Regions from separate parts of the Homo sapiens genome. Here region 1 is linked to region 2. Evidence: fine-mapped expression QTL. A gene starts in region 2. The other region holds a variant in brackets. All regions are shown on one strand. Distances are from middle to middle.

Region 1 (16,244 bases), 29 kb before region 2:
GCCGAACTAGCCTTGGGAAGGAATTTAGTTTATAGTTTAAATAACAGCCCTTCCCAAAAGCAAATCTGTTCTTGTAAAACGAATGAAAGGCCACCAGCCACCAAGTTAGGATGAGAGGGGCTGGAACTCTAAATATTACCAGCTGTTACGTGGAAGGTCATGAGATTTGCAACTTCCCTGATTACTCTTGAAGATAACATCACCATTGTGAACCTGAGATTGGCCTTTTGAGATGTCTTTTCAGGTTTTTCCATTTCTGACAAGTGGTTGGCCTCACCTGGACCTGCCAACCAGTTCTGTGGCACTCACCCAGGAACTGACTCAGCATAAGAGGATAGCTTCGACTGCCTATGAGTTCATCCTCAAGCCAACCAATCGGTGCTCCTGGCTCACTGGACCCCTACCCACCAAATTATTCTTAAAAACCCTGATCCCTGAGTTTTCTTTTCTTTTCTTTTTTTTTTTTTTAATTATACTTTAAGTTCTGGCAAACATGTGTACATCGTGCAGTTTTGTTACATAGGTATACACGTGCCCTGGTGGTTTGCTGCACCCATCAACCCGTCACCTACATTAGGTATTTCTCCTAATGTTATCCCTCCTCTAGCCCCCGACCCCCTGACAGGCCCCGGTGTGTGATGTTCCCCTCCCTGTGTCCATATATTCTCATTGTTCAACTTCCACTTATGAGTGAGAACATGTGGTGTTTGGTTTTCTGACCTTGTGATAGTTTGCTGAGAATGATGGTTTCCAGCTTGATCCATGTCCCTGCAAAGGACATGAACTCATCCTTTTTTATGGCTGCATAGTATTCCATGGTGTATATGTGCCACATTTTCTTAATCCAGTCTATCATTGATGGACATTTGGGTTGGTTCCAAGTCTTTGCTATTGTGAATAGTGCCACAATAAACATACGTGTGCATGTGTCTTTATCATAGAATGATTTATAATCCTTTGGGTATAAGCCCAGTAATGGGATTGCTGGGTCAAATGATATTTCCAGTTCTAGATCTTTGAGGAATCGCCACACTGTCTTCCACAATGGTTGAACTAATTTACACTCCCACCAACAGTGTAAAAGCATTATTTTTCCACAACCTCTCCAGCATCTGTTGTTTCCTGACTTTTTATTTATTTATTTATTTTTTTATTGAGACAGAGTCTCGCCATCTTTCCCAGGCTGGAGTGCAGTGGCACGATCTCAACTCTTTGCAAGCTCTGCCTCCTGGGTTCACGCCATTCTCCTGCCTCAGCCTCCCGAGTAGCTGGGACTACAGGCACCTGCCACCACGCCTGGCTAATTTTTTTGTATTTTTAGTAGAGACAGGGTTTCACTGTGTTAGCCAGGATGGTCTGGATCTCCTGACCTCGTGATCCACCCACCTCGGCCTCCCAAAGTGCTGGGATTACAGGCTTGAGCCACCGTGCCCGGCCTGTTTCCTGACTTTTTAATGATCGCCATTCTAACTGGCATGAGATGGTATCTCATTGTGGTTTTGATTTGCATTTCTCTAATGACCAGTGACGATGAGCATTTTTTCATGTCTGTTGGCTGCATAAATGTCTTCTTTTTAGAAGTGTCTGTTCATACCCTTTGCCCATTTTTTGATGGGGTTGTTTGCTTTTTTCTTGTAAATTTGTTTAAGTTTTTTGTAGATTCTGGATATTAGCCCTTTGTCAGATAGATAGATTGCAAAATTTTTCTCCCATTCTGTAGGTTGCCTGTTCACTCTGATGGTAGTTTCTTTTGCTGTGCAGAAGCTCTTTGGTTTAATTAGATCACATTTGTCAATTTTGCCTTTTGTTGCCATTGCTTTTGGTGTTTTAGGCATGAAGTCTTTGCCCATGCCTATGTCCTGAATGGTATTGCTCAGGTTTTCTTCTAGGATTTTTATGGTCCTAGGTCTTACATTTAAGTCTTTGATCCATCTTGAATTGATTTTTGTAAAAGGTGTAAGGAAGAGGTCCAGTTTCAGTTTTCTGCATATGGCTAGCCAGTTCTCCCAACACCATTTATTAAATAGGGAATCTTTTTCCTATTGCTTGTGTGTGTCAGGTTTGTCAAAGATCAGATGGTTGTAGCTGTGTGGTGTTATTTCTGAGGCCTCTGTTCTGTTCCATTGGTCTATATCTCTGTTTTGGTACCAGTACCATGCTGTTTTGGTTACTGTAGCCTTGTAGTATAGTTTGAAGTCAGGTAGCATGATGCTTCCAGTTTTGTTCTTCTTGCCCAGGATTGTCTTGGCTATGCAGGCTCTTTTTTGGTTCTATATGAAGTTTAAAGTAGTTTTTTCCAATTCTGTGAAGAAAGTCTGTGGTAGCTTGATGGGGATAGCATTGAATCTATAAATTACTTTGGGAAGTATGGCCATTTTCACGATATTGATTCTTCCCATCCATGAGCATGGAATGTTTTCCCATTTGTTTTTGTCCTCTCTTATTTCCTTGAGCAGTGGTTTGTAGTTCTCCTTGAGGAGGTCCTTCACATCCCTTGTAGGTTGGATTCCTAGGTATTTTATTCTCTTAGTAGCAATTGTGAATGGGAGTTCACTCATTATTTGGCTTTCTGTTTGTCTGTTATTGGTTTATAGGAATGCTTGTGATTTTTGCACATTGATTTTGTATCCTGAGACTTTGCTGAAGTTGCTTATCAGCTTAAGGAGGTTTTGGGCTGAGACAATGGGGTTTTCTAAATTTACAATCATGTCATCTGCAAAGAGAGACAATTTGACTTCCTCTCTTCTTATTTGAATACCATTTATTGCTTTCTCTTGCCTGATTGCCCTGGCCAGAACTTCCAATATTATGTTGAATAGGAGTGGTGAGAGATGGCATCCTTGTCTTGTGCCGGTTTTCAAAGGAATGCTTTCAGTTTTTGCCCATTCAGTATGATATTTGCTGTGGGCTTGTTATAAATAGCTCTTATTATTTTGAGATATGTTCCACCGATACCTAGTTTATTAGAGTTTTTAGCATGAAGGGGTGTTGAATTTTATCAAAGGCCTTTTCTGCATCTATTGAGATAATCATGTGTCTTTTGTCTTTGGTTCTGTTTATATGATGGATTACGTTTATTGATTTGCGTATGTTGAACCAGGGTTGCATCCCAGGGATGAAGCCAACTTGATCATGGTGGATAAGCTTTTAGATGTGCTGCTGGATTCAGTTTGCCAGTATTTTATGAGGATTTTTGCATCGATGTTCATCAGGGATATTGGCCTGAAATTTTTTTTTGTTGTGTCTCTGCCAGGTTTTGGTATCAGGATGATGCTGGCCTCATCAAATGAGTTAGGGAGGATTCCCTCTTTTTCTATTGTTTGGAATAGTTTCAGAAGGCATGGTACCAGATCCTCTTTGTACCTCTGGTAGAATTCGGCTGTGAATTCATCTGGTCCTAGACTTTTTTTGGTTGGTAGGCTATCAATTACTGCCTCAATTTCAGAACTTGTTACTGGTCTATTCAGAGATTCGACTTCTTACTGGCTTAGACTTGGGAGGGTGTATGTGCCCAGAAATTTATCCATTTCTTCTAGATTTTCTAGGTTATTTGCATAGAGGTGTTTATAGTATTCTCTGATAGTAGTTTGTACTGCTGTAGGATCAGTGGTGATATCCCCTATATCATTTTTTATTGCGACTACTTGATTCTTCTCTCTTTTCTTCTTTATTAGTCTGGCTAGCAGTCTATCTATTTTGTTGATTTTTTCAAAAAACCAGCTCCTGGATTCATTGATTTTTCGAAGGGATTTTCATGTCTCTATCTCCTTCAGCTCTGCTCTCTTAGTTATTTCATGTCTTCTGCTAAGTTTTGAATGTGTTTGCTGTTGCTTCTCTAGTCCTTTTAATTTTGATGTTAGGGTGTCAATTTTAGATCTTTCCTGCTTTCTCTTGTGGGCATTTAGTGCTATAAATTTCCCTCTAAACACTGCTTTAAATGTGTCCCAGATATTCTGGTACATTGTGTCTCTATTCTCATTGGTTTCAAAGAACATCTTTATTTCTGCCTTCATTTCGTTATTTACCCAGTAGTCATTCAGCAGCAAGTTGTTCAGTTTCCATGTAGTTGTGCAGTTTTGAGTGAGTTTCTTAATCCTGAGTTCTAATTTGATTGCACTGTGGTCTGAGAGACTGTTTGTTATGATTTCTGGTCTTTTGCGTTTGCTGAGGAGTATTTTACTTCCAATTATGTGGTCGGTTTTAGAATAAGTGTGATGAGGTGCTGAGAAGAATATATATTCTGTTGATTTGGGGTGGAGAGTTCTGTAGAGGTCTATTAGGTCTGCTTGGTCCAGAGCTGAGTTCAAGTCCTGAATATCCTTGTTAATTTTCTGTTTCATTGATCTAATATTAACAATGGGGTGTTAAAGTCTCCCACTATTATTGTATGGGAGTCTAAGTCTCTTTGTAGGTCTCTAAGAACTTGCTTTATGAATCTAGGTGCTTCTGTATTGAGTGCATATATATTTAGGATAGTTAGCTCTTCTTGCTGCATTGTTCCCTTTACCATTATATAATGCCCTTCTTTGTCTCTTTTGATCTTTGTTGGTTTAAAGTCCGTTTCATCAGAGATTAGGATTGCAACTCCTGCTTTTTTTTGCTTGGTAAATATTCCTCCATCCTTTTATTTTGAGCCTGTGTGTGTCTTTGCATGTGAGATGGGTCTCCTGAATACAGCACACTCATGGTTCTTGACTCTTTACCCAATTTGCCAGTCTGTGTTTCTAATTGGGGCATTTAGCCCATTTACATTTAAGGTTAATATTGTTTTTGTTTTGTTTTGTTTTTGTTTTTGAGATGGAGTCTCACTCTGTTGCCCAGGCTGGAGTGCAATGGCACCATCTCAGCTCACTCAACCTCCGCCCCCTGGGTTCAAGCAATTCTCCTGCCTCAGCCTCCCGAGTATTACAGGCACCTGCCACCAGGCCTGGCTAATTTTTTTATTTTATTAGAGATGGGGTTTCACCATGTTGGTCAGGCTGGTCTCGAACTCCTGATCTTGTGATCCGCCTGCCTTGGACTCCCAAAGTGCTGGGATTACAGGCATGAGCCACCATGCCCAACCCAAGGTTAATATTGTTATGTGTGAATTTGATCCTGTCATTATGATGCTAGCTAGTTGTTTTGCCCGTTAATGCAGTTTCTTCATAGTGTCGATGTTTTTTACACTTGATATGTTTTTGCAGTGGCTGGTACTCATTGTTCCTTTCCATGTTTAGTGCCTCTTTCAGGAGCTCTTGTAAGGCAGGTCTGGTGGTAACAAAATCCCTCAGCATTTGCTTGTCTGTAAAGGATTTTATTTCTCCTTCACTTATGGAGCTTAGTTTGGCTGGATATGAAATTCTGGGTTGAAAATTCTTTCTTTAAGAACGTTGAATATTGGCCCCTACTCTCTTCTGGCTTGTAGGGTTTCTGCCGAGAGATCTGCTGTTAGTCTGATGGGCTTCCCTTTGTGGGTAACCCGACCTTTCTCTCTGGCTGCCCTTAACATTTTTCCTTCATTTCAACCTTGGTGAATCTGACAATTATGTGTCTTGGGGTTGCTCTTCTCAAGGAGTATCTTTGTGGTGTTCTTTGTATTTCCTGAATTTGAATGTTGGCCTGTCTTGCTAGGTTGGGGAAGTTCTGGATAATATCCTGCAGAGTGTTTTCTAACTTGGTTTCATTCTCCCTGTCACTTTCAGGTACATCAATCAAACGTAGATTTGGTCTTTTCACATAGTCCCATATTTCTTGGAGGCTTTGTTCATTCCTTTTTATTCTTTTTTCTCTACTCTTGTCTTCTCTATTTCATTAAGTTGATCTTCAATCGCTGATATCCTTTCTTCCACTTGATTGATTTGGCTGTTGATACTTGTGTATTCTTCACGAAGTTCTCATGCTGTGTTTTTCAGCTCCATCAGGTCATTTATGTTCTTCTCTACATTGGTTATTCTAGTTAGCAATTTGACTAACCTTTTTTCAAGGTTCTTAGCTTCCTTGCATTGGGTTAGAACATGTTCCTCTAGCTCGGAGTTGTTTGTTATTACCCTCCTTCTGACGCCTACTTCTGTCAGTTCGTCAAACTCATTCTCTGTCCAGTTTTGTTCCCTTGCTGGCGAGGAGTTGCGATCTTTTGGAGGAGGAGAGGCGTTCTGGTTTTGGATTTTTCAGCCTTTTTCCACTGGTTTTTCCCCATCTTTGTGGATTTATCTACCTTTGGTCTTTGATGTTGGTAACCTTCGGATGGGGTCTTTGAGTGGACGTGCTAATCCTTTCTGTTTGTTTCTTTTTCTTCTAACAGGCCCCTCTGCTGCCAGTCTGCTGGTGTTTGCTGGAGGTCCCCTCCTGACCCTGTTTTCCTGGGTATCACCAGTGGAGGCTGCAAAGCAGCAAAGATTGCTGCTTGTTCTTTCCTCTGGAAGCTTCGACCCAGCAGGGAACCTGCCAGATGCCAGCCAGAGCTCTTCTGTATGAGGTGTCTGTCAGCCCCAACTGGGAGGTGTCTCCCAGTCAGTATACACAGGGGTCAGGGATCCACTTGAGGAGGCAGTCTGGCCCTTAGCAGGCTCGCATGCTGTGTTGGGAGATCCGCTGCTGTCTTCAGAGCCATCAGGCAGGGACGTTTAAGTCTGCTACAAGCCTGACTGGGCTGCTGCCTTTTTTACAGAGATGCCCTGTCCAGGGAGGAGCAATCTCGCAGTCTGAACACGGCAGCCTTGCTGAGCTGCAATGGGCTCCACCCAGTTTGAACTTCCCAGCAGCTTTGCTTACACTGTGGTGGTAAAACCGCCTGCTCAAGCCTCAGCAACGGCGGACGCCCCTCCCCCTACCAAGCGCCACCGTCCCAGGTGGATCTCAGATTGCTGCTGTGCTGGAAGCGAGAATTTCAAACCAGTGGATCTTACTTTCCTGGGCTCCATGGGGGTGGGAACCGCCGAGCCAGACCACTTGGCTCCCTGGCTTCAGGCCCCCTTTCCAGGGGAGTGAACAGTTCTGTCTCGCTGGCGTTCCAGGTGCCACTGGGATATGGAAAAATAAAATAAAATAAAAGCTCCTGCAGCTAGTTCAGTGTCTGCCCAGTTGGCCGCCCAGTTTTGTGCTTGAAACCCAGGGCCCTGGTGGGGTAGTCACCAGAGGGAATCTCCTGGTTTGCAGGTTGTGAAGACCATGGAACAAGTGCAGTATATGTGCCCAAGTTCCTCAGGCTGAGACCCTCACAGCTTCCCTTGGGTCAGGGGGAAAATTTCCCGATTCCTTGCGCTTCCCAGGTGAGGTGACACCCCACCCTGCTTCCGCTCAGCCTCTGTGGGCTGCACCCACTGTCCAACCTGCCCCGGTGAGATGAACCAGGTACCTCAGTTGGAAATGCAGAAATCACCCACCGTCTGCATCGATCTCGCTGGGACCTGCAGACTGGTGCTGTTCCTATTCGGCCATCTTGAACCTCTCTCCTGATCCCTGAGTTTTCAGAGAGACTGATTTGAGTAATAATAAAACTCTGGTCTCCTGCTCAGCCAGCTCTGCATGAATTACTTTTTCTCCATGTAATTCCCCTGTCTTGAAAAATGGGCTTTGTCTAGGCAGGGGGCAAAGTGAACCCACTGGGCGGTTACAATCTCACCGTGTTTCAGGAGCCTCGGGTGTTCTTGCACAAGGGGAGTCAGACTGTGGTTGAGCCTTGTCTACATGGCCTAAGTGAAGACATGCAGGGTTGCCAGGGCACTGTGGAGTTGGCACTCCATACCACCATGCTGGACCTTCCACATACCCCGCTGATAATTCTTCTGGATATTGTTTTTTTTTTTTTTTTTTTTGAGATGGTGTCTCACTCTGTTGCCCAAGGCTGGAGTGCAGTGGCACAATCTCGGCCCACTGCAACCTCTGCCTCCGGGTTAAAGCAATTCTCATGCCTCAGCCTCCTGAGTAGCTGTGACCACAGGTATGTGGTACCACACCTGGCTATTTTTTGTATTTTTAGTAGAGACAGGGTTTCACT[A/C]TATTGGCCAGGCTGGCCTTGAACTCCTGGCCTCAAGTGATCCACCCACCTCGGCCTCCCAAAGTGCTGCAATTACAGGCATGAGCCACTGTGCTGAGCCTGGGAATTCTTTTTTTTTTTTTTTTGAGATGAGGTCTCACTGTGTTGCCCAGGCTGGAGTGCAGTGGCACAATCTTGGCTTACTGCAACCTCTGCCTCTTGGGTTTAAGTGATCCTCCCTCCTCAGCCTACCAAGTAGCTGTGACCACAGGTGTGCACCACCACACCTGGTAATTTTTGAATTTTTGGTAGAGGTGGAGTTTCACCTTGTTGCTCAGGCTGGTTTCAAACTCCTGAGCTCAAGTGATTTGCCCACTTGGGCCTCCCAAAGTGCTGATATTACATGTGTGAACCACCATGCCTGGCCTGGAAATTCTCCATCACTTACCTTAGATGTACTGGTAGAAGGTTGGACCAAATCCTTTTCCTTAGGCAACATTAAATGAGAGTAACCATGATGATGACTCCCAGGAGGACAATTAGGCCTGCTTGGAAAAAGATAGGCTGCAATCAGACTTCCCATCCAGAGCCAAGCCAGTTAGGTATGTCATTAATTCAGATGTCCTACTTGGCTGGCTGGCAGAAAATCCAGGGCAATGTGATCATCCATTACCGCTCACACTTGATAGCCCAAACTAGGTGCGTGGTAGGCAATTATATGCCTGATATCCACCATAAGAAGTGCTATTCATTTGGGGCAAAACTGTAAGAGTATAAGTCTCCGGCTATCGTAGCCCAACCTAGTCTCAATGCTACGTCCTGCTCAGGGCGAATTAGATTCTGCTAATAGGTTTGGGTGACCACAGCAGCAGCACAGTGCTGACGTGACGTCAAGGTCCAATTCTCACAAGACTGGAGGCTGGGATTAACAATATAAAGGAAATTTAAGTATCAGAAAGAGCCTGAAAGAAGGAATAGTTCCTGGAAGAATACTTCCAAAGTACTCAAAGGAGGAGATTTTTTTTTTTTTTTGAGATGAAGTCTTGCTCTATCCCCCAGGCGGAGTGCTTTGGCACGAACTAGGCTCACTGCAACCTCCGCCTCCTGAGTTCAAGCAATTCTCCTGCCTCAGCCTCCTAAGTAGCTGGGATTACAGGCACATGTCACCATATCTGATTAATTTTTCATATTTTTGGTAGAGGCGGGGTTTCACCATGTTGGCCAGGCTGGTCTCGAACCCCTGATCTCAAGTGATCGACCTGCCTCAGCCTCCCAAAGTGCTAGAATTACAGGCATGAGCCATCGAGCCCAGGCAGGAGGAGCTATTAAAAGTTTGTCAGCAGGGTCAGGAGGGGTAAGACAGATTGAGCAACACAAGGAAGTTTTGTTATTTTTTTTAGGTAGTGGAAGGGGACCAGAGATACCAGCAATAATAGGATAGGAGAAAGCAGGAAAGAAACCTAAGTGTCCAGAAAATTATCTTTTTTCTGATGTCTTGGGCAGAAGTTCTCCACTTCTAAAGTTGGAGGTCCTCGATTTAAGGTCTCTCGATAGAATGGGAGTAGTAGTTAGACTGAGGGCAGTGGTGATAGCCTGGACAACATGACAAAAAGATTCTGAGATGACAGGCCAAGCCAGGTGTTCTGCAGGCAAGAGCCAAGAGAGATCTAGAGTGTTCCTTCACCACCATCCTGGGCTTTTGATGTTTTTTCATGGCCATGAGATAGGTATAGCTAGTCCCTGCAGTCCTCACTCAGTCTAATACACACCATATGGCTGAGTTTATTCCTAAGCAGTGCAGCTTTGTGTGTGTGTGCGTGTGTGTGTTTGCAACTTGTGCCATCTAGAACATCTTCCACTCCCTCACATAGTGTGCCATGCCGGGACCACTTTGGGAGTCGTCACTTCATACTCATGATCAATATCATCAGTATCTATAATTGCCCAGATCCAGGAAGCATAACTGGACAGTAAAAGCAGCATCAGGTTAGGCTGGGCATGGTGGCTTATACCTGTATTCCCAGCATTTTGGGAGGCCGAGGCAGGTGGATCACGAGGTCAGGAGATCAAGACCATCCTGGCTAACATGGAGAAACCCCGTCTCTACCAAAAATACCTAAAATTTAGCCGGGTATGGTGGCAAACGCCTATAGTCCCAGCTACAGTCCCAGCTACTCGGAGGCTGAGGCAGGAGAATCTCTAGAACCAGGAAGGCGGAGGTTGCAGTGAGCCAAGATTGTGCCACTGCACTCCAGCCTGGGCGACAGAGCAAGACCCCGTGTCAAAAAAAAAAAAAAAAAAATGCTGGGCGCTGTGGCTCACACCTGTAATACCAGCACTTTGGGAGGCCAAGGTGGGTGGATCACCTGAGGTCAGGAGTTTGTGACCAGCCCGGCCGATATGGTGAAACCCCGTCTCTACTAAAAATACAAAAATTAGCCGGGCGTGGTGGTGGGCGCCTGTAGTCTCAGCTACTCAGGAGGCTGAGGCAGGAGAATTGCTTGAACCCAGGAGGCGGAGGTTGCAGTGAGCTGAGATTGCGCCACTGCACTCCAGCCTGGCGACAGAGTGAGATTCCGTCTCAAAAAAAAAAAAAAAAGAAAAAAGCAGCATAGTTTGGTTTCCCCAGGGGTGAGCGTGGGAGGGAAAGGAGGAATGAAGAAGGAGAGTATATTGTGTTGGTTTGGGTCTCTTACAGACAGTCTGGGCCTCCTCCCCGACTCCTCAAACTCACACAGATTCTATTTAAAAAGGAAGTTCCCTTTTGGGGTATTGGCACATTTAGAATCCATATTGTCTGTTTTAAGTGTGTACTCTACTGAGAATTGAGCTTTGGTTCTCTATGTACCCTTTTTAGCTTCTCCTTTAAGCATCCATCTCTCTCTCTCTCTTTTTTTTTTTTTTTTTTTTTTTTGACACCGGGTCCCATTCTGTCGCCCAGGCTGGAATGCAGTGGTTCAATCACGGCTTACCCTGCAGCCTCAACCTCCTGGGCCCAGGTGATCCTCTCACCTCAGCCTTCCCAGTAGCTGAGACCACAGGGGTGTACCACCACACCCGGATAATTTTTTGTATTTTATGTAGAGACAGAGTTTCACCATGTTGCCCAGGCTGGTCTCAAGCGATCCACCTGCCTCAGCCTCCCAAAGTATTGGGGATACAGGTGTGGGCCATGGCGCCCAGCCTCATTCCATCCTTTTATGGCATCTATTGCCTGTGGGTGATGAGGGTCCTGAGATGTCCTGGCAATGTCCAAGGTGGTTGGCCAGTGTTGGGTACTCTTGACTATAAATGCGCATCATTTGATGAGATACATTCAGGGAATCTCAGTATGTAACACAGGTCATCTGCGAGTCCCTAAATTTATGTTACATCTACCTCCTATCTGTGGTAAGGACCTACATTGCCATGCCATACCCAGAAAGGTGCCTACTGTAGGAAATGCTTAATTGCATCCCCAAGTGGAGCATTTAGGAGGTTATGTAGCCTATTTGCCAGGACTGGCCAGAATCTGGTGTCCTGAGTTTATATGTGCCCTGGAGTTTTCTTTGCCCCTTGACTGACAGGCTCATTTACCAGACTTCGGTGGCTTCCTGTGCTGGAGTCATTCATCTTTGCTTTGGGTCCCAGTCCTGCACTGTAGACAGAATGTCGTGGCCTCTGTGATGATGTATTCAGTTGTCCTTACCTGGAAGGCACAAGTCTGATTGGGTTTTGAATTCCACTCATGCTATTTCTATGGACATCCACATCCATAAAACAGAGGGCAGTGGTGTAGTATTAATAAAATCTGAGGCTGGGTGCGGTGGCTCATGCCTGTAATCCCAGCATGGGAGGCTGAGGCGGTGGATCACTTGAGGTCAGGAGTTCGAAACCAGCCTGGTCAACATGGCAAAAATCTCATCTCTAATAAAAAAAAAAAAAAATAGCCAGGCATGGTGGATCACCTGAGGTCAGGAGTTCAAGACCAGCCTGGTCAACATGGCAAAACCCCGTCTCTACTAAAAATACAAAAAAAAAAAAAAATTAGCCAGGCACGGTGGTGCAAGCCTATAATCCCAGTTACTTGGGAGGCTGAGGCAACAGAATCACTTGAACCTGGGAAATGGAGGCTGCAGTGAGCTGAGATCGTACCACTGCACTCCAGCCTGGGCAACAGAGGGAGACTCCATCTCAGAAAAAAAAAAAAAAGTCTGATACCATAATGTTCACTGCCATAGGGATTGAGACTTGATCATTTAGTCTTGCTTCCAGGCACAGGCCCGCACTGCCAGCCCATTGGCTACCGTCTCTAAATCAATGAAAAAGCAGCAAGGAGCATTTTGGAGGGGTTTTTCAGGAAAACCACCACTGTCCCCAACTCTGTCCACTGGGTAGTACCTTTTTTTTGTGTGCAAAATTTTAAACAGCTTTTGTTTTCCCCTGTGGCTGCACAGCTGCAAGGGCCAAGAACAATCCGCCAGCCTGTAACTTAGCGGGCTCCATCTGTGAACCAGCTTCAGGCATCCTCAGGGACTTGGTGTATCAATGCCTCCATGAAGCTGGAGGTGCTGGCACAAAATGTTCCTCTGGGATCAAGGGATGTCTGGCCATCTTGTAATGCCATTATGTGACTCTTTTGATGCCTGATGACCCCATTCTACAGAGTAGCCAGTCACTGGCACTTGTAGCTGAAAAGGATCATTAGAGCTAACTGGCCTGAGCAGAGTGCAGTCTGTACAGTCTGCCGGACACTGCTTTTTTTTTTTTTTTTTTAAGATGGAGTCTCACTCTGATGCCAGGCTGGAGTGCAGGGACTTGATCTTGGCTCACTGCAACCTCCACCTCCCGGGTTCAAGCGATTCTCCTGCCTCAGCCTCCCGAGTAGCTGGGACTACAGGCACACGCCACAATGCCCAGCTAATTTTTGTATTTTTAATAGAGATGAGGTTTCACCATGTGGCCCAGGATGATCTTGATCTCTTGACCTCGTGATCTGCCCGCCTCGGCCTCCCAAAGTGCTGCGATTACAGGCATGAGCCACTGTGCCTGGCCTGGACACTGTTCTTAAGCACGCTGGACCCTGCCAGCTCTTTTCCTCAGTGCAGTGGTCTTTTCCCCGCCTGTACTGCTTCACCCACACCACATGGCTGGGCTCAGGGAGCCCAGTGGGTCCTGGATGTGCTCTCATCCCACTAATGCTGTTCTCACTGTAGCATTTTTCCAAAGGCAACATCACTTGCCATTATGGACAGAAGTATTACATATCCTTAGAACAGGCTGTGTGTCCCTACACTGGGAAGGGTGCATGACCTTGGGTAAGACTGTTCCTGTGGGCCAAGGACATTCTTGGAAGAGGTTTCACCTGTGAATCATTAGCAGTCCATACTCTAGCAGCTCATGGAATCACTGCTTAGGTCCTGATGGGAAATTCTGAGAGGTATCCAAAGGTTCACTACACATTGTAAAGTCGTAGATGTGGAGCCCACACTGCCACCATAATTAAGGCTGCGGCAGGTCTTTCCACTACCTTCTGTGAAGCTGCCTGCTGCTAGGAGATGTGGCATGTAGTAAGCAGGAACTCCATAGCCATGGCCCATAGCTTAACATCTTTTATCATGAAAACATGCCCATGGACAAATAATTTGTATGTAAGACATCATTGCAATTGAATAAGCATTTGTAAATCTATGAATATATGGTGCTGGAGGAAGTGCTGTGGGCGGGATAAGCAAACCCATGAATATGTTTGTGTTAATCCACCTTCATTCTCCACCAACATTTGCCTCTTGCACTGACCAAATAGGTGAGGTAATAATGGTGTTATGGAAATCAGTAGCCCTGCATCTTTCAAATCTTTATGGAACTAATTTCTGCAATGTCATCAGGCACAGAATTGTTTTTTTTTTAACAACTGGTAATCAATTTATTAAAATAGTTGACTTAAGCATCTGCAATGGTAACTTCCACCTCAACTCCTGGCTCAATACTGATGGAAGTAATCTGCTTAACAATCTCAGAAGGACTGTGCAAGTCAATGAGTCGCTTGTGAATTCTCATCTGGAAATGATCCCAGGTCTTAGAATCTTCACCACAAGTAGTTTTTCTTGTAGTGATTCTCAAAGTCTTGGCAGGCATTCGAACTGGTCCTTTCACTTTGAGATTCTTTTCCTTTGCGCCTCTGATTAAGTCATCACACACCTTTTCCAGGGATTTTACATTGCGGCTTGTTAGGGTGATTCGAATTTGGTGAATGGCCACCTCCGGCTCCACGGGTGTTTTCCGGTATCCTTAAAAGCCAAGGCTGCTGCGCGGCTTCCTGACCGACTTGTTCCTCGGCGAGAGTGAACAGCGGTAAGTCAGGAGCAGGAGCGTCTGAACGAGAAATCCTCAGCACCTACGACCGCGTCTTCCTCCACAGAATTGTTTTTAGGTTATTATCTTGGTTGTAGGTGGCCCTTTCAAGGATTCTAACTGGGCATTCCCACCATGACAGACCGCATTCCTCGGATAAGGACAGCAAGGCTGGCAAAATAGCCACACGGTGTGCCTGGGATCCTACCTGACCCACTGTGAGGTGGACTCTGGCCAAGACCTGTCTATCCCCTGACCTCCCTAAGCCTCTCTCCAATTGACCATAGAGATTCCAGGGATTAGGCTCAGATAATACCAGTATCTACACATGTGGCTTCCAGTAAAATGAGCACAGACTGAGATTACAGAACCCAATTCCTGGCCCTCTCTGCTGCTAAATATCTATCAGGAAAGATCCTCCCTGAGCTTGCTTACTCATCTGTAAGTTGGAGCCAAAAATGTTCTTTGGATCGTGTGTCATTTGTGCAGATGTGATAAGATTACACACGTCAAGTGCTTTACACATTGCCTAATAAGTACCATTCACCGTTTCTTCTGCAGAGTGTAAAGAGGAAGATAAATTATCTATTACTATTTAGCAGTATTTTAATAACTTTTATGCACTTTTAATTTATTTCCAAATTTTTTCTTTTCTTTTTTTTTTCTTTTCTTTTCTTTTTTTTTTTTTTTTTTTTCAGTAGAGACAGAGACTCTCTTTGCTGCCCAGGATGGAATGCAGTGGCAGTCATAGCTCACTGAAGGCTTGAACCTCTGGGCTCAAGTGATTTTCCTGCCTCAGCTTTCTGAGTAGCTGGGACTATAAGCATGCACCACCATGCCTTACTATTTCTTTTCTCTTTTCTTTTCTTTTTTTTTTTTTTTTTTTTGAGACGGAGTCTCGCTCTGTCACCCAGGCTGGAGTGCGGTGGCTTGATCTCGGCTCACTGCAACCTCCACTTCCCAGGTCCAAGTGATTCTCCTGCCTCAACCTCCCAAGCAGCTGGGACTACAGGCGTGTGCCACCATGCTCAGCTAATTTTTGTATTTTTAGTATATTGGTCAGGCTGGTCTTGAACTCCTGACCTCGTAATCCACCCACCTTTGCCTCCCAAAGTACTGGGATTACAGGGTGAGGCACCACGCCCAGCCACCTGGCTATTTCTTAAAAAAAATTTGTAGAGATGGGGTCTTGATATGTTGCCTAGGCTCAAATTTTGTCATCTTTTAGATAACAGGATTTGGGGCTGGGTGCAGTGGTTCACACCTGTAATCCCAGCACTTGGGGAGGCCTAGGTGGGCAGATCATGAGGTCAGGAGTTCGAGACCAGCCTGGCCAATATGGTGAAACTCTATCTCTACTAAAAATGCAAAAATTAGCCGGGCATGATGGCGGGCGCCTGTAATCCCAGCTACTCAAAAGGCTGAGGTGCGAGGAGAATTGCTTGAACCCGGGAGGCAGAGGTTGCAGTGAGCTGAGATTGTGCCATTGCACTCCAGCCTGGGCGACAGAGCGAGACTCTGACTCAAAAAAAAAAAACCAAAAAAAATTTAAAAAAAAATTAAAAAACAAAACAAAACAGGATTTAGGGATAAGAATTTAGGACTAAGTCAATTTTCTATGAATATTCTTACATGTCAAATTTCGAAGGCCCAGACTCAAATGACTTGATTCTTATTTTCAAATAATTGGGCTGTAAGATTTATCTGTTACTTCTTAACATATAATTTGTACACCTGTCTAGGATTTAACTTGGAAAAGATTTTTCAAAACTTGGTACGATTATATAAAATGTGTGCTTATGACCATAGCTGGTAGGCATGTGAGATGGTAAGGCATTTCCGCAGAGCAGAGGTTCATAAAAGCTTTATCATGCATCAGAGCTATCCGGAAGGCTTTTTAAAACACAGATTGCTCAGCTGGGCGCAGTAGGGTGCGCCTGTAGTCCTAGCTACT
Region 2 (16,244 bases):
TGCATAAGGACGTGCTTTATAATGGTCTATTCCACTGCAGATAATAAAAGAAGGCGTGCAAGAAGATCTATATGCAGTGACGTGCAAAGGTATCAAGAACAAGTTGCGAAACCCCATGGTATGATTTCATCTGATTAAAAGAAAAAAGGTATACACTATATATTATAGTGAAAATACCTATGTGTGTGTGTGTGTGTGTGTGTGTGTGTGTATTACAAGTAATGATTAAAAGTAGTTATGTCGGGGGGTTAGACTAGAAAGTTGAGATTCTAAGGAGGAGCATTTTTCACTTGATATTCTTCTCTATGGTATAGTTTTTACATGAGCTTTTTTTTTTTTTTTTTTTTTTTTAGACAGAGGAGTCTCATTTTGTCTCCCAGGCTGGAGTGCAATGATGTGATCTCAGCTCACTGCAACTTCCATTTCCCAGGTTCAAGAGATTTTCATGCCTCAGCTTCCTGGGTAGTTGGGATTACAGGCATGCTCGGCTAATTTTTTTTTTTTTTTGATACCGAGTTTCGCTCTCGTTACCCAGGCTAGAGTGCAATGGTGTGGTCTTGGCTCAATGCAACCTCTGCCTCCCGAGTTCAAGCAATTCTCCTGCCTCAGACTCCCTGAGTAGCTGAGATTACAGGCATGCTCCACTATGTCTGGCTAATTTTTCGTATTTTTAGTAGAGACGGGGTTTCTCCATGTTGGCCAGACTGGTCTTGAACTACTGACCTCAGGTGATCCACTCGCCTCGGCCTCCCAAAGTGCTGGGATTACAGGCATGAGCCACTGCACCCAGCGAGCATGTATTATTTTTATAATAATTTTTAAAAATCTTGAGCTCCTCTTGCCCTAAACTATTTCCCCTATTAGTCTGGTTGTTTCGGTGCCCATATATTATGAAATAATCAGAATACAAGTCTGATAAATATGAATTCTAGTGGGGACAATGGAATAGGGTATTTGCAATTGAAGTCACTGCATGAAGTACTCTCTCCCTTGTCCCTTTCTCTCCCTTCTCTGGCCTGAATGTCCCATCCCTATCCCCATACCTGTAAGTCACTCCTCTGGCTTAAATGGGGAGTTAACACAGGGTGGTGGGAAGTATAGTAGACTTGGAGTCTCTCACGCATTGCCTGCCAGGGCCCACCGTGCAGGACTCCAGGCCCTACTCTAAAACTTGCTACTTGCCCGACTGCAGGCTCTCAGACCCTCATTTCCCTGTGATAGGGTAAAAAAAATACTTGCTCTGCCTACATCACACAGATGTGAAGATAAAATGAAACAATGCCTTTGAAGGTATCTGGAAACAGGAGAGTGAGTCCTATATATATCTATATATATGTGTGTGTGTGTGTGTGTGTGTGTGTGTATATATATATATATATACACATATATGGTTTTTATAAATCAGCGTTAACATTTGATTTTATAACCATCATTAAAAAGGGAGAGGTAAATGGGTGGAGAGGGAGGAGTGAAAAAACAAAATAAAAGGTAGAGGCAGTATTCAAGGTCACAGTTAAAAATTTCATATTCCCTGCAGGTGGTAGGTGCTGAATGGTTGAATAAATGAACAGTCCTAAAATGGATATATTTTGGGGCAACAGTAAGTTGCCCCCAGGAAGAAAATCACTTTTGGAAAATAAAACTGGCAAGAATCTATGCTAAATGGATGAGACCAGCCACAGAAGCACTTCATCCTAAAAGATGGTAAAGGTGGTGTATACAAAATTAGGCCGGGTGCAGTGGGTTATGGCTGTAATCTCAGCACTTTGGGAGGCCTAGGTGGGTGGATTGCTTGAGCCCTGGAGTTCGAGACCAGCCTGGGCAACATGGTGAAACCCAGTCTCTACAAAAAATACAAAAATTAGCCATTCGTGGTGGGATGCAACTGTAGTACCAGGTACTGGGGAGGCAGAGGAAGGAGGATCACCTGAACCTGGGAGGTCAAGGCTCCAGCGAGCTGAGATTGCACCACTGTACTCCAACCTGGGCAACAGAGTGAGGCCTTGTGACAAAAAAACAAAACAAAACAAAACAAAAAACCCAACCAACTTGGGTTGGGCAGGGTGGCTCACGCCTGTAATCTGAAAACCTTGGGAGGCCGAGGCGGGTGGATCACTTGAGGTCAGGAGTTTGAGACCAGCCTGGACAACATGGTGAAACCCTGTCTCTACTAAAATTACAAAAATTAGCTGGGCATGGTGGCAGGAGCCTGTAGTCCCAGCTACTCAGGAGGCTGAGGTGGCAGAATTGCTTGAACCCAGGAGGCAAGGGTTGCATTGAGCTGAGATTGTGCCATTGCACTCCAGCCTGGATGATGGAGCAATACTCCGTCTCAAAAAATTAATAAACAAATAAAAACAAAATAACAAAACTGGGGGATACCCAAACCCAATTAATATTCAAATAAATGCTTGTTAAATGCCAGGGATAGTGCTATGCATTTTACTTATTTAAGTCTCATAACAACCCTATTATTTCCACTTTACAGAGGAATGGGAGGCACAGAGAAGTTAAGCAATTTGCCCAACCTCATAGCATGTAAATGGTCGACAAGATTCTAATTTCTAATAGTCTGGCCCCAGGTCCCATGTGCTAAACTATCCCTTACCTAGAACAGTAGGAATGCTTGCTCAGAAAAACAGGACTTAAAATAGAAAAAAGTGGTGTTTTTTGAACATCTGACTGAAACGGAATGTGTTAACATATTGTTTCTAAACTTACCAGGTAGCAAGAGTCATTCTTGTGATTGCTTCCCAAACTGCAGCATGCTTATGAATCATATGGGGATCTTGTTAGAATGCAGATTCTCATTCAGCAGGTCTGGGGTGGAGTGAAGGCTCTAGGCAGAGGGCTAGAGGGTCCCATCATTGGAGATAGACTTCCCCACGGAAAATGAAGAAACTGGGTTCTGCTCAGAACCTCAGTCTCCCATGAGGCAGTTCCCAATAGCAGAAGCCTCTCTTTGAGTGCCCCAAACACCTGAATTTCTGGACCAGGAAAGCAGAGGTACAGCCCCAGGCCCTACTCCCTCCCTGAAAACTCAGCTTTTTGTGCCCAGCAAGCTCTGAGGTGGGGGGTCTTGTTGGGAAGCTTTCTCTTGCTGAAGGGATCAGACAAGTGAGGGGCACTGACCCTGGAAGAGGAATGCTGGGGAGCAAGAGCCTCGGCAGTGGTGGAGTGGACTGTGCAGTGAGTGGCCTGGCACAGTCTCCTGTGCTCTGGTCTGTAGAGAGAGCGAATGATAAATAAGGATGTACTGGAAGATGAGGTGTGTGGTTCATGTCCAGAAGTGGCAGGTCTGTTGGGGGAAGGGAGAGATTGACTTTGCCTCTTTGGCTGTTGTATTCATGGCCAGTCCTCAGTGTGAAACTCAATGCAAGAAGGGGTTTGTGGCCCATAAAAGCATGGGCTGGTCAATCTTGTTGATCCACTAGATCCATAGCAGGCTATTTGTTGACTGAACAGACGAATGAATGAAAGGCTAGGGAAGCCATACAAAGCCAGATGCTGTTACCCTCCACCTCCTCCTGGGATGACTTTGGGGATGACTCACGTCCTGCTGCCCCCTCACTTTCTCAGCCTAAAACCACACATCCTGGACTGTGCGGGCAGCGAGCTGACCCTTCCTTTTCTGCTGTAGGATCTTCATTACACAAAGTTCCTGAGTTTCCAGCAAGTTGCCTTTCTTCCCTGTTTAAGAGCTGAGAAAACTGGGCCTTGGGGAAAGCGAGAAGTCCCAGTTTAAGTCACCAGAGACGTCTTCCTAAAGAAGTATTCAGGATGCTGTGCTATCCAGAAGCTGGCTCCAGAGACACCTGGACCATTTCAAGCTCTAAGAACTGTGCTTCTGTTCCCTCTGCCTGGCTCCTATGCCATATCACACCCACATGTGTGAACTCAAAGCCAAAGGGAAGAGACCAGGCCATGTGCAGCCAGGACAGAGGCATGTAAAATCTAGAGAGGGTGGGCCAACCTCCCATACTCCTGTGTTGGCGGAGAAATAGACCCACCAGTTTGTCTGGCACAACCAAAACTCAGCTTTCTTGCCATGGGATGCTGGCCTGAGACCAGTCACAACCAGTCTCAACCAGTCTCCATATCAGGGCTTGGCTGTCTGGGTGCTTTCAAGCACCCTTCCCCCACCTGGATCCCAAGCATCCCTTGGACTCTGCCAGGACAGAGCCACAGATGCCGGGGGAAATGGGAAATGACTGGAGACACAGAGGACAGCCACATTCAAAGCTGGTGGGAAAGTGGTGGTGGTGACATGTGGCCCTTGCCTGAAACATTATTTTGAATTTATTTCCTGTAGGAATTGACTACAGGTGGGTTTTGTCTTGCAAGATAGGTTTCCTTTCTTGAGAAATCTCAAGAGAACAGAGTTTTCAGTAACTCTAAGACACGGTTAGGCCACTGCAACAACTTTATTTCTGGAGAGAACATGTGCTCTGGCTTCCTGCCTCTTCCTACTCTGGGGAAACTGGGGCCAATCTCGAAGACTGATCTCCTAGAAATGTCCTTTTTTATTCCAACAGGGTTTGATGCAGCTCAAAATACAGGCTGTAAAAGCAACAGAGTTAATAAAAAGGAGGGGGAAAGAAGGAGGAAGTAAATGTGTTAAGTGCAAATAAGAGTTGGCACCTAGGGCAATCATACTTGCCTCAGTACTTGCTGGCATCCTGGGAAAAGGCACTTACAATCTTGAAATTTGTTAGGTTCTTCGCAGCTTTAACTGCCGCTTCCTTCTCTGTGCCTCCGTTTCTCTGTCTATAAAGTAAGGGGAAAATACCTCATCTGAGATTTATTGAGAGCATCACCTGAGATAATCCATGCAGAGCACCTGAAATAGTACCTGGCACACAGTAAGCATTCAACTGCATCACAGATATTATTATTATTATTATTTTGAGATGGAGTTTTGCTCTTGTTGCCCAGGCTGGAGTGCAATGGCACGATCTTGGCTCACCGCAATCTCCGCCTCCCGGGTTCAAGTGATTCTCCTGCCTCAGCCTCCCAAGTAGCTGGGATTACAGCCATGCACCACCGTGCCCAACTAATTTTTGTATTTTTAGTAGAGACAGGGTTTCTCCATGTTGATAGGCTGGTCTCGAACTCCCGTCCTCAGGTGATCCACCCGCCTTGGCCTCCCAAAATGCTGGGATTACAAGCTTGAGCCACCATGTCCAGCTACAGGTATTATTATTACCTCATTCATCTGGGGATGGGGAGGGCATTGGTGGGTGGAGAGGAGCTGGTTCTCCTTTACTCCAAGGCTCCTACCTTCTCTTCCCTGGATGTTCTCGCCCCTGCTCCCATGCAAGTCCTCACAGACGGCCTCTGAAGCCGCCTTTGTTCCTGGTCTGGTTCCACAACGTTCCCATGCCCACTTGAGCTCCCTCTACTCCAAGTAGACTATTTCCAGGATGAGTACTTCAAGTACATCGAACAGTGACCTCAAATGCATTTCCTTGACTGTGCCTCTCTGAACTAAAAAGTGCAGAAATGTCATTGCTTCCTTCTTTTGTCTGGTCTTCCACAGGGCTAGGTTGGGATCCGGGGGGAGAGTAGCTTTCCTAGCTCTCAGCAGCTCAACTCCACCGAATTAGTGAACGATGGACATGTCCCCAAGAGGACTCTAAACCCACAGTCCCCAACATGGTGTTCTGCAGCATGCCACAGGTCATCTTGTTCTGTCCTCTCTGAGGGTGAGGTTGGAGAGGGACCCTAGGCTCACAGGCTCAGTGACAGTGACTCACCAAAGATCCTGTGGGCAGTCAGGGTCTGGGCCAGGCCAGTGAGCCCATTCATATGGCATGAGCCACAACACTGTTCCTCTTCCTCCGGCAGCAGCCCGTTTTGCGTGTCCCCTCACTATGAGCCGTGGGAGAAATTTGAAAGGGCTTGGATCAGAGGGCAGGGAGAAGAGGGTGGTCCTGACATCTGACACATACTTCATTTTAAACATGGGCTATGTATGACAGGCCTTCAGCTAGTTATTGAACAAAGAGAATAAGAGCCCTTTTACAAGGGCTTTACATATATTCATTCATTTGGTCCTCACAACAGCACTGTGAGTTAGAAGTCTCAATCTCACCCCTTTACAGATCAGGAAACTGAGGCAGATAATTTATTTGCCTATGGTCACAGGACTAGTGAGTGACAGAGCAGGTGGTTTGGTCTTACAGTCTATGTGTTTAACCACTACACCAAACCACCTCCCTAAGATGCTAGAGGGGGTTTGTGCCAATGCCTGGATTCTAAGAGATTAGATTCTCTTTAGGATCTCTGACCTGTTTCCTCAGCATTCAGAGATAAGGCCAGAAACAATGCCATTTGTGCACGAACTGACAACTGACGGTCCTCCTACCTCCTATTTCTATTTAAAAGGCACTGTAACTTCTTTCCACAGGCAGATCCCTACCTCTCCTCCCTTAGGGGAGGACGAAGGTGTCCCAGCCAAGGAAGATCCTGGTCTCCAAGGGCTGTACCCTACTGATCCGGAGGCAAAGCAGTGAGGGCCCACCCCAATTCCTCACCTCCCATTCTACTCTTCGGCAGAAGCATCTCAGTGTTGGAAAGATAAGGATTTCTTCCTAAAAAGGAAGGATTACACTATATCAGAGTCTGAAGATACAGTTTTCATTTGCAACGCAAGGGAATTCCTTTGAATCTCTACCTTATGATTTCCCTGCAAACCCACTCCGATGGGGCTGGAGAGTGCTCTCTCACTCAGATGAATCTCTCAGGGGTTGTCCAGCAGGTGTTTGCCAACTTGAAGAGCTACCTACTATCACAGACCTATAAAAGTACGCCTGTGGACAGACTGAAAACAAACAAACAAAACACACACACAAACACACAAAACAACCGCACACTGGGAGAAGTTCTAGGCAATTTCCTTGCAAATAACTGCTTTGAAAATTACTGTTTTAAATTGGCAGAACACTAAGGACTTTGAACAGATCATCCCTTTTACTCAATGTTTTCATAACCTTGAAGTGAAGGTGGAGGGAGCAGTACGTTTTAAGGTGCCAGGATTACACTACGGGGTCAGTGCTCCCGGATATGAACTTTCTTTTTCAGACCGACCTTGGGACCTACAGCTTTGTAAGTTACTCATACAACTCCATCAAATGTTACAGGTAGGTCAGAGGACATTCAGGTTGTTTAAGCCTCTATAAATGACTCAGGCAGCAACAATTTACAACGTCTTTGTTTCTGCTATGCAGTGCCCTCCTGCTAGAGATGGCAAAAATGTGGGGAGGGCTTCAGAGCATTCTAAGCCTGGTATTTCTGGCTGGAATTTTTAAATCTCACTACAATCCTGACAAGAGACCACGACCTTAATCTCCCACGGCATGACTGGTTAGTCTTGATCGTAAGCCATATAATCAACACCCAAATGTGCATAACACATCTAAATAATGTCAAAACTACACTATATACCACGCAGGGGACCAGAAATCAATCTTTACCTCAAAAGGATAAGCTTCCAGGATGCAATAACATCCCCTTCCACCCTTTTCTACACCCTAAAACAGTAATATTCACGGTAACAGCAAAGCGGAAATCAGCTTTTCCTGAACATGTACTGAATTCTAGTCACATTCACACACGTTAATTCATTTAATTCCAGCCACAAGGTAGGCAGCCTCTGTTAACATTTTACAATTGTGAGAACGCAGAGATCTGGGACTGGCTCAAGGTGACACACTGCAGCAAGGAGTCAGAATTTGAATCCGAAGCAGTGTCCTTCCCCCTCGCAACAGCTGCGGCGTTACAAACACAGGTCAGCCACGGAGAAATTAATGACCCACAGCCATCCTTGCAGCTCTGCGCCATAACTGGGGAGACAAGCTGGTTCCCGTGACTCTTCAGTCTGTTTTCACCCAAGTGCATGACTGCGGGAGCAAAGCGACCACGTGAGCATCCCCCCCCCACCCCCCCGCTTCCCCCAGGCGAGGGACAGTGCCAGGCCAAGGACAAGTCACAGGTGCAACAACGTGCCAGAACTGGATCCGGAGCCCCAGGGCGCAAGATCTCCCGCAGCGTCACCCGGCAGAGGGACGGGTGTGGCCACCGGGCGCGGCAGGTCCTGCGTGCGCTGAAAGTGCGGCTGGAGGCGCGGACGGCTTTCCGGAGCCCCGAGAGAGGAGCTAGGAATGACTTTGGTCGCAGCCTCTGTAACCCCGCATGACGGCCTCTAGGGGGACAGCGAGGTCCCCCTCGATCTCTGGCTGTAATCAGCCGGCGGGGCCAGACGGTGCCGAGACTCCAGGGCGAGGCCGCAGGGAGGGGGCTGTCCCGCCCCACGTGGACCGGCTCCCCGCTGGGGGCGTGGCCGCCGAAGCGGGCCGGGCCAATGAGCGCCACCGTCGGGCTCACCCGGCTGGGCACGCCGGGCCGAGGAGGGCTGCGTCATGCCGGGGGCGGGGCTTCGGGGCCGGCGCGAGGCGCGGCGGGGTCACGCGGGTCGCTGCGCGGGCTATAAGTAGGGGCCGGCGGGGTGCTCCGCTGGAGTGATGGCTGCCGGCGCTCTCTGCGTGGTTCTTCTTCTCGGCCGCTGAAACCCCCGCGGCTGCTTCCTGGGAAGGTCGTGAGTCCCGCTGAGCTGTCCCCGGTGCCGCCGACCCGGGCCGTGTGCCCGTGGCTCCAGCCGCTGTCGCCTCGATCTCCTCGTCTCCCGCTCCGCCCTCCCTTTTCCCTGGTGAGTAGTGGCGCCGCCTCGTAAAGGCTCTTTCTTCTCCCCGGGGCCGGGCGCGGACGCCGTGGCGCTGGAGGCGGACGCCGTGGGCGGCGCGGCTGGCTTCTCTCTTCGCCGCTGGCCGCCTCCACTCCGCCCGTCTGCCCGCCCGCGGGCCTTTTTGGCGGTCCCCGGGCGGCGCGCGCGGGAACGGCCCTTTTCCGATTTTCGCGCGGAGGGCGCGCGCGGGCTGGCAGCGCAGGGGCTGGGCTGGGCGCGCGCGGGCCGCGGAGGACCCGGAGCCACGTGCCTCTCCTTCTCGCGCGTCCTACTGGGGATGGGGGTCTGGAGTAGCCGGCAGAGGCTATTGCGGGACCCCGGGCGCGTGGGTAGAGCGGGGTGCCCCACTGGCCCCCCAGGGGCACGCAGCTATTGTTATTTCCCCCCTCCCCCGCAGGATGAACTTGCGTCCTTTCTCTTCTCCGCCATGGAATTCTGCTCCGTGCTTTTAGCCCTCCTGAGCCAAAGAAACCCCAGACAACAGATGCCCATACGCAGCGTATAGCAGTAACTCCCCAGCTCGGTTTCTGTGCCGTAGTTTACAGTATTTAATTTTATATAATATATATTATTTATTATAGCATTTTTGATACCTCATATTCTGTTTACACATCTTGAAAGGCGCTCAGTAGTTCTCTTACTAAACAACCACTACTCCAGAGAATGGCAACGCTGATTACCAGTACTACAGCTGCTACCGCCGCTTCTGGTCCTTTGGTGGACTACCTATGGATGCTCATCCTGGGCTTCATTATTGCATTTGTCTTGGCATTCTCCGTGGGAGCCAATGATGTAGCAAATTCTTTTGGTACAGCTGTGGGCTCAGGTGTAGTGACCCTGAAGCAAGCCTGCATCCTAGCTAGCATCTTTGAAACAGTGGGCTCTGTCTTACTGGGGGCCAAAGTGAGCGAAACCATCCGGAAGGGCTTGATTGACGTGGAGATGTACAACTCGACTCAAGGGCTGCTGATGGCCGGCTCAGTCAGTGCTATGTTTGGTAAGTTCTTTTTATGTTTTGTCCTCTTCGTGGTGGGTGAGCAAATTTGTATCATGGGTGGTTCCATTTTTGTGCATAACCTTTCCGATTAACCTTTCTGAATGTGCCACTTACATAATGGAATTTTGATATTTACTTAATAAAACTTTACTATGTTTCAGGTTCTGCTGTGTGGCAACTCGTGGCTTCGTTTTTGAAGCTCCCTATTTCTGGAACCCATTGTATTGTTGGTGCAACTATTGGTTTCTCCCTCGTGGCAAAGGGGCAGGAGGGTGTCAAGTGGTCTGAACTGATAAAAATTGGTATGTTTAATTCCAAACGGCTTCTTAATTTTCGTTTTCGTCATATGTTACCATGGCATTAGGTATGGGAGGATGTGTTCTAACGTCGAGGGACAGACCCAAGAATTTTGAACTCTTAAACATTTAAAGTGGTTTTTGGTTTCTGATTTTCATTATTTGATATTTTTTCTTAATGTGTTCTATTCCAGTGATGTCTTGGTTCGTGTCCCCACTGCTTTCTGGAATTATGTCTGGAATTTTATTCTTCCTGGTTCGTGCATTCATCCTCCATAAGGTAACCTTTCTCCCCCGTATGAAGACCTTTCATGGAGCACACCCAATCGATTTCAAACCCAGTGGTACTTTTGCAGATGTGATTGGTGTATAGGTATGCGGCCTTGGAAAATTTTAAAAAGCTCTTTGTTCTGTGCATTTCTTGTATGTTGTGGAGTTCTCTGAAAGCGAGTTTTTAATACTCAAGAGGGCAGTCAGGAAGGAAAAATTGAATACTATGATGTGCCAAGAAGTAGGAGAAACTGGGAGCAAAAAAATAAGGAAATTTATTTTGCGTGGTTTTGTGTAGCTGTATACACATTATTTGTTTAAACCACTGTTATATTCAGGCTAATATAATACGTAAACTTGGAGTTCAAGACAGTGTCCCCTGTGGCTTTTTTAACTAAGCTGCCAGTTAAATGGGTCTCTGCCGTGCTGATTATCATAACCAGTTTATAAGCTTCTAGATGAGGACTCTGCCTCCCATAGTGACTTGACTCCAATTTCTCAGAATAGTTGAAAAGAACCAGTTAAAGGTAGTTTTTGGCCCGCCCCCCAAAAAAACTTCAGGCAGCCATTTAATTTCCTGTCCATTTGAAAATCCCTTTTAAGTGACCCAGTTTGCATTTCTTTTATCAAGAAGTCTTGCTGGCTGCAAAATAAATGTTGACAAGGGATTATGTTGGCATAGGACTGAGTTACAGTGAGGATAAATGCATTTTTCTCAGGAAACAAAGTTGTCCTTTTTCTAAGGTGAATGGCTCTTAACAATCCATTGTAAGTTCTTAAAAGTGTTCCTAAACTGTAGAAATCTGAGGGAGATAGCATAAATCCCAGCAGGTAAGAATGTATTCAGACCCACTTGTCTGGTCTAGTTGTAAGCTTCTCTAGGGAAAGATTTGTCTCTTCTCTGTAGAAATTCTATGACTAGTAAAGTGATTCACTAATCACTGTTTTCCATAGCCAGAATCTGGCAGAATATAGCAGTTTAACACTTTGAAAACTTGAAATATCTTTAGCCTGGTATAATATGAGAGTAAACAGTTCATTGATATTTATGGACTCCTAAGTTTGGTACTGTTTTATTCAGCAGACAGGTACGATAAGCATCTACCTTCCCACTCCCTACAACTGTAGTGTATGATACTGGGATGCTTAAATTAGAGGCTCACCAGTAGTCATGGACCAGATTTTTTTGTTTTTTTTAGAGTTTTCATTAGAACTGTATATCTTGCTACTTAGCAGAGAGTCAGAAGCATTAGTAGGATCTCCTGTTGTGAATTCCTGCTTGGTAAAGGTTTATGCTGGCCCTGTGTTGATTATTGAGTAGCAGATCATTTTGTTTTTGGAGAGGGTTTGTGTGTTTCACCTCCACAAAACACTTATTCCCCGGAAGGGGAATGGTGGTGCTCTGAGGTGCAAAGAGGGATTCTCAGGTGCCCAGAACCTCTCATTTGAGGAATGCATACCCCCACGGTGTTATTGAGGGCTGAAGTTAGATACGGTAACTGATTTCTTAATTGTATATTTCCTATATGGGTATGGGAATGGGCATGATCAAATGATGAAGAATGATTGGCATAGTGTTTAAAACAATATTGACTTTGAGGATCTTCCCCCACTCTGTGCACGTGCACACACACACTCTTGCAGGCCAATCCCTCAGTAACAGGAGTTTTCAGTTGAGTATGAATATTTCTGCTTCCTTTTAGGAGTTAAATTTCAAGAAAATATCCTTAGACTGGTAAGCTTTTGGTATCTTAACTGCTAAAATCTGAATATTTGACCATTAAGATATATTCCAACTCTTAAATGTCTATCTTGAAAATTAAGATTAACATGACCTTTTTTTTTAATTTCAAAAAATTGCTTTTAAACATTTTCTATTCTCTGAATGTTTGTTCCAAGCATGTTGGGGATAGGTGGGAACAGACAGAATGGAGGTGAGGTACTTCTATTTAGGACTGGCATCGCACAGAAGGAATATGCTTCAGTGCTCCTGTTGAGTATTTTTAAATTCTAGTCAAAGAAAATAGGGCTTTTGGCATTCTCATTAGTTAGAAATATATTTAGGATGTCTTCCCTTTTCTTTAGACAAAACCAGAATATCCAATATGTAAAAGTGAACTATTCTGGTGAAGATGGGGGGTTTTGTGAAGACCTTTCCTGTCCCACATGACTAGACGATGAGGCATTCACATTATTTCCAGGTGAAGTTTTACTTGTGTGTTAGGTGGATCTCTACAATGATGAGACCTTTCTTGTTTTACCTTCTTCCTAGACTCTCTGGAACTTTTGATTTTTTTTTAACCATGAACCTGTATTTCACAATAAACTATTGGTATAGTAGTGTCATTCATACCCTACCCCATCCCCAACAACTTTGCGTAGAGAATACCTCAGATTTGTTTACCTCAGGGAATACTTAATTGGGCTATGCTATACAGGATAATAAATACACAGGCTGCTACTTCAGACTAGTCAATTACAATTTGATTTATGGATAATCATATTACGAAATATCTTTGAAAATCTATTGAGAAGTCCCCACATAATGTCTTTAAAACCCAGGAAATTTTTGGGGGTGGGAGTCTTGGGTTGGGTTTTTTGGAGCCTTTTTTTTTTTTTTTTGAGACGGAGTCTCACTCTGTTGCCCAGGCTGGAATGCAGTGGCACGATCTGGGCTTACTGCAACCTCCGCCTCTCGGGCTCAAGCAATTCTCCTGCCTCAGCCTCCTGAGTAGCTGGGATTACAGGCGCCACCACACCCGGCTAGTATTTTTGTATTTTTGGTAGAGACGGGGTTTCACCACGTTGGTCAAGCTGGTCTTGAACTCCTGACCTCAGGTGCTCTGTCCGTCTTGGCCTCCCAAAGTGCTGGGATTACAGGCTTGAGCCACTGCACCTGGCTTTTTTTTTTTCTTAAGCGAAGTCTCGCCTGTCACCCAGGCTGGAGTACGGTGACTTAATTGTAGCTCACTGCAGCCTTGACCTCCCAGGCTCAAGTGATCCTCCTGCCTCAGCCTCCAGAGTAGCTGGGACTATGGGTGTGTGCCACCACATCTGGCTAACTTTTTATATTTTATAGAGGTGGAGTCTTGCTCTGTTGCTTAAGTTGGTCTTGAACTTCTGGGCTCAAGCCATCCCCTGCCTCATCCTCCCAAAGTGCTAGGATTACAGACAGACATGAGCCACCACCACACCTGACCTGCATTTTCTTAAGACTAGTCTTTAGAATAAAAATACACACCTTAGTTTCCTAATCTTGTTGACTGCCCTCAGAGTTTGACCACCGTTGAGTTAGTTATTCAAGGATGCTTAACAGTTCTTGATTTCTGTATGCTATTGTTTTTGTTTTGGCTATTTCACTATCTGTTAACATTCTCTATTAAACTATAGATAAGAGTTAAATTTTAGAGTGGTTTTCAATGAGTGCTCATCTCTGCTAATTTGAAATGGTACCTTTACTTTACACATGGGTCTGAGCTTTCCCTTGTTTCACTGGTCTTAAGCTACTAACTTTCCAGTGTATTGATTATTGTTGGAAGCTGTAGGGTTTTACTTTCTGTTTTTCCTCCCCAAGATTTTCCACTGGAATTGTGATCAAGATAACATTAAACCTTTTAGGCTAAGGTCTTTATAAAGTTTTTAGCCTTCCCATATATGTATTCAGATCTTTGCTCCCAATTTTTTTTTTTTTCTGAGATGGAGTCTTACTCTGTTGCCCAGGCTGGAGTGAGGTGGCCCAGTCTCCACTGACTGCAACCTCTGTCTCCCAGGTTCAAGTGATTCTCCTGAGTCAGCCTCCAGAGTAGCTGGGACTACAGATGCTTGCCACCACATCCGGGCTAATTTTTTTGGTATTTTTAGTAGAGACAGGGTTTCACCGTATTACCCAGGATGGTCTCGATCTCCTGACCTCATGATTGTCCTGCCTCGGCCTCCCAAAGTGCTGGGATTACAGGTGTGAGCCACCGCGCCCAGCCTCCTCCCATTCTTTCGGTGTTTGACTTGGGTGTTCTCCTATAGAATTAATACATACTAGGTATGGTAGAATTCTTATTTTTAGTCACTGGCCTTACTGTTCCTTAAACATTTCAAGTTTTTGCCTTAGGGCCTTTGCATTTGCTGATATCTCTGTCTGGAACATTCAGCGCCCAAATAATCAGGTGGTTTGCCCCTTCTGTACCCATAGTTAATGTACACAGCTTGCTAGCTTACTACATTTATGTCATGCTTATTCCTTGACCCTCCCCACCCAAATGGTGCCCCCCCTTCCATCACTCTCCTCTTACCCTTCTTTATTTCTCTTCACAGCATTTGTCAGTACTTTACATTATTCCATACTAGAAGGTGAGTGTCAGTTCTATTAGAACAGGAACTTGGTCTTATTCCCTCCTATATTTCGGTGCCCAGAATAGCACTTGGCACACAGTCTTTTGAGTGAGTGGATGACCTTGTGCACAATCAGTTATTATCATTGAACTTCGGTAAAGCATTAATTGTGGCATCTTTGTCAGATGTTTAGATAAGATGGTTGGCGTACGCATAGTCTGCATGTTGTATTTTTAGTCTTTGAAGATATGAAGTCAGGTAAGCAACATCCTAACATAGTCTATTTCTTGACATCTCTTACAAACGTAGAGTATAGCCTATCCTCAGGTGTGTGCTGAAGTTTATATTAGGGCTTTTGGGTACCTTAGAATGTGGGTATTGCAATCTTTATTCAGGATGTTATCAGTCACTGGTACAGTTAGTCTTGTTATTAAAAGAAAAAAGAAAAAAAAACAGGTAGAAGTTGGAATTAGCCTTCGTAGGAAGAATTCCAGATGCAAATGCAGGAAAAACTCTGTTGTCCTTGGAAACTACTCTGGAGAGAGTTATTGGCACTATAATTCCCAAACCTACCCTGTTAAAAGATTCTGTGGAAATGGGTTAACCTTTATACCTTTTAAGATATTGATCTTAATGATGTTTTACAGGCAGATCCAGTTCCTAATGGTTTGCGAGCTTTGCCAGTTTTCTATGCCTGCACAGTTGGAATAAACCTCTTTTCCATCATGTATACTGGAGCACCGTGTAAGTACCTATCAAAATATTTAAATGTGAATTTAAAGTTGTTTACAAAACTTGCATTAAATGCCCAATTTACCCCTTTTTGCTTTACAGGGCTGAAATCTCCTAGAAGGTGGCTGGCCTGCGCCCATTTCAGAAGGCTGCAGGCTAGTGTACGCTGAGTTAACCTAGATAGTTTTTCAACCAAAGAGACCTGCTCAGATTCTAAATCACTACAGACCTTTCCTCTTTAGTCTTCACAGGATCCACTGATAATATGATCATCTCCTTCCCTTTCTCCTGTCTATGCTAAAAATGCTGGAATTAATACTGACCTCAACTACTGAAGTCATTAGTTATATCTGATCTTCAGTAATCAGTCATTTAGGACTGGTTTGCTGGATATTCTCATTTTTCTCTCCCAAATGGAGATACTATTGTTTCTAAGTACTAAACTTCCATGAATCTGCTTGAATGAGAAGAGTTGGGATGTTTACCACCTGCTCTAAGTGCACTTGGAAGAAGAAATTCATGCAGCTAAGAGGAAAAATAATTTGTGAGAATATAAAGGTTGAAATGTTGATGACTTTCATGTTTGGGACTAAGGCAAGGCATGGATTAAATTATGGCGCTACAAGTTTAATTTAGCAACAACAAAAGATTGGTAACTTGTAACTGGCAGGACAGTACAGTTTTGGTATCTAGACTCATTTGGCCTGATGGTCTGTGACTACATAGGCAGTGACTTTTATTCTTTATACTGTGACCCACTGGATGAAATACAGGACACACATGTATGTATGTAGAGAGAAAGATAACTGGAATAGTGTCATGAAGCCACTTAATGCTTACTATGTGCTATGCACCCATATTTTCAAATTCTCTCTTTTTT

What was found. PIP is the estimated chance that this variant, and not a neighbour inherited with it, causes the effect.
Region 1: its variant is fine-mapped to the expression of SLC20A1-DT in whole blood (TOPMed, PIP above 0.99).

The regions. Positions count from the first base shown.
Region 1 is chr2:112,607,930-112,624,173 of GRCh38, forward strand. LOC124907869 (a long non-coding RNA gene) reads left to right here. Exons shown (of 2, transcript XR_007087193.1): 2 at 6,284-7,495. It also overlaps the pseudogene RPS20P11. Among named protein-coding and RNA genes, the nearest start is that of SLC20A1-DT, 28 kb to the right of the region's middle. The variant A/C (reference allele first, on the strand shown) is at 7,979.
Region 2 is chr2:112,637,423-112,653,666 of GRCh38, forward strand. It overlaps SLC20A1-DT (SLC20A1 divergent transcript), which reads right to left and starts at 6,758. Exons shown (of 5, transcript NR_033871.1): 1 at 6,677-6,758; 2 at 6,537-6,593; 3 at 5,757-5,871; 4 at 4,661-4,767; 5 at 4,408-4,560. SLC20A1 (solute carrier family 20 member 1) reads left to right here and starts at 8,517. Exons shown (of 11, transcript NM_005415.5): 1 at 8,517-8,707; 2 at 9,141-9,740; 3 at 9,902-10,042; 4 at 10,231-10,316; 5 at 15,280-15,376. The coding sequence starts at 9,407. It overlaps LOC107985934 (a long non-coding RNA gene), which reads left to right. Exons shown (of 2, transcript XR_001739642.2): 1 at 1-148; 2 at 1,538-2,424. RefSeq lists enhancers at 3,011-4,210, 3,450-3,744, 4,340-5,539 and silencers at 8,179-9,008, 9,470-9,764.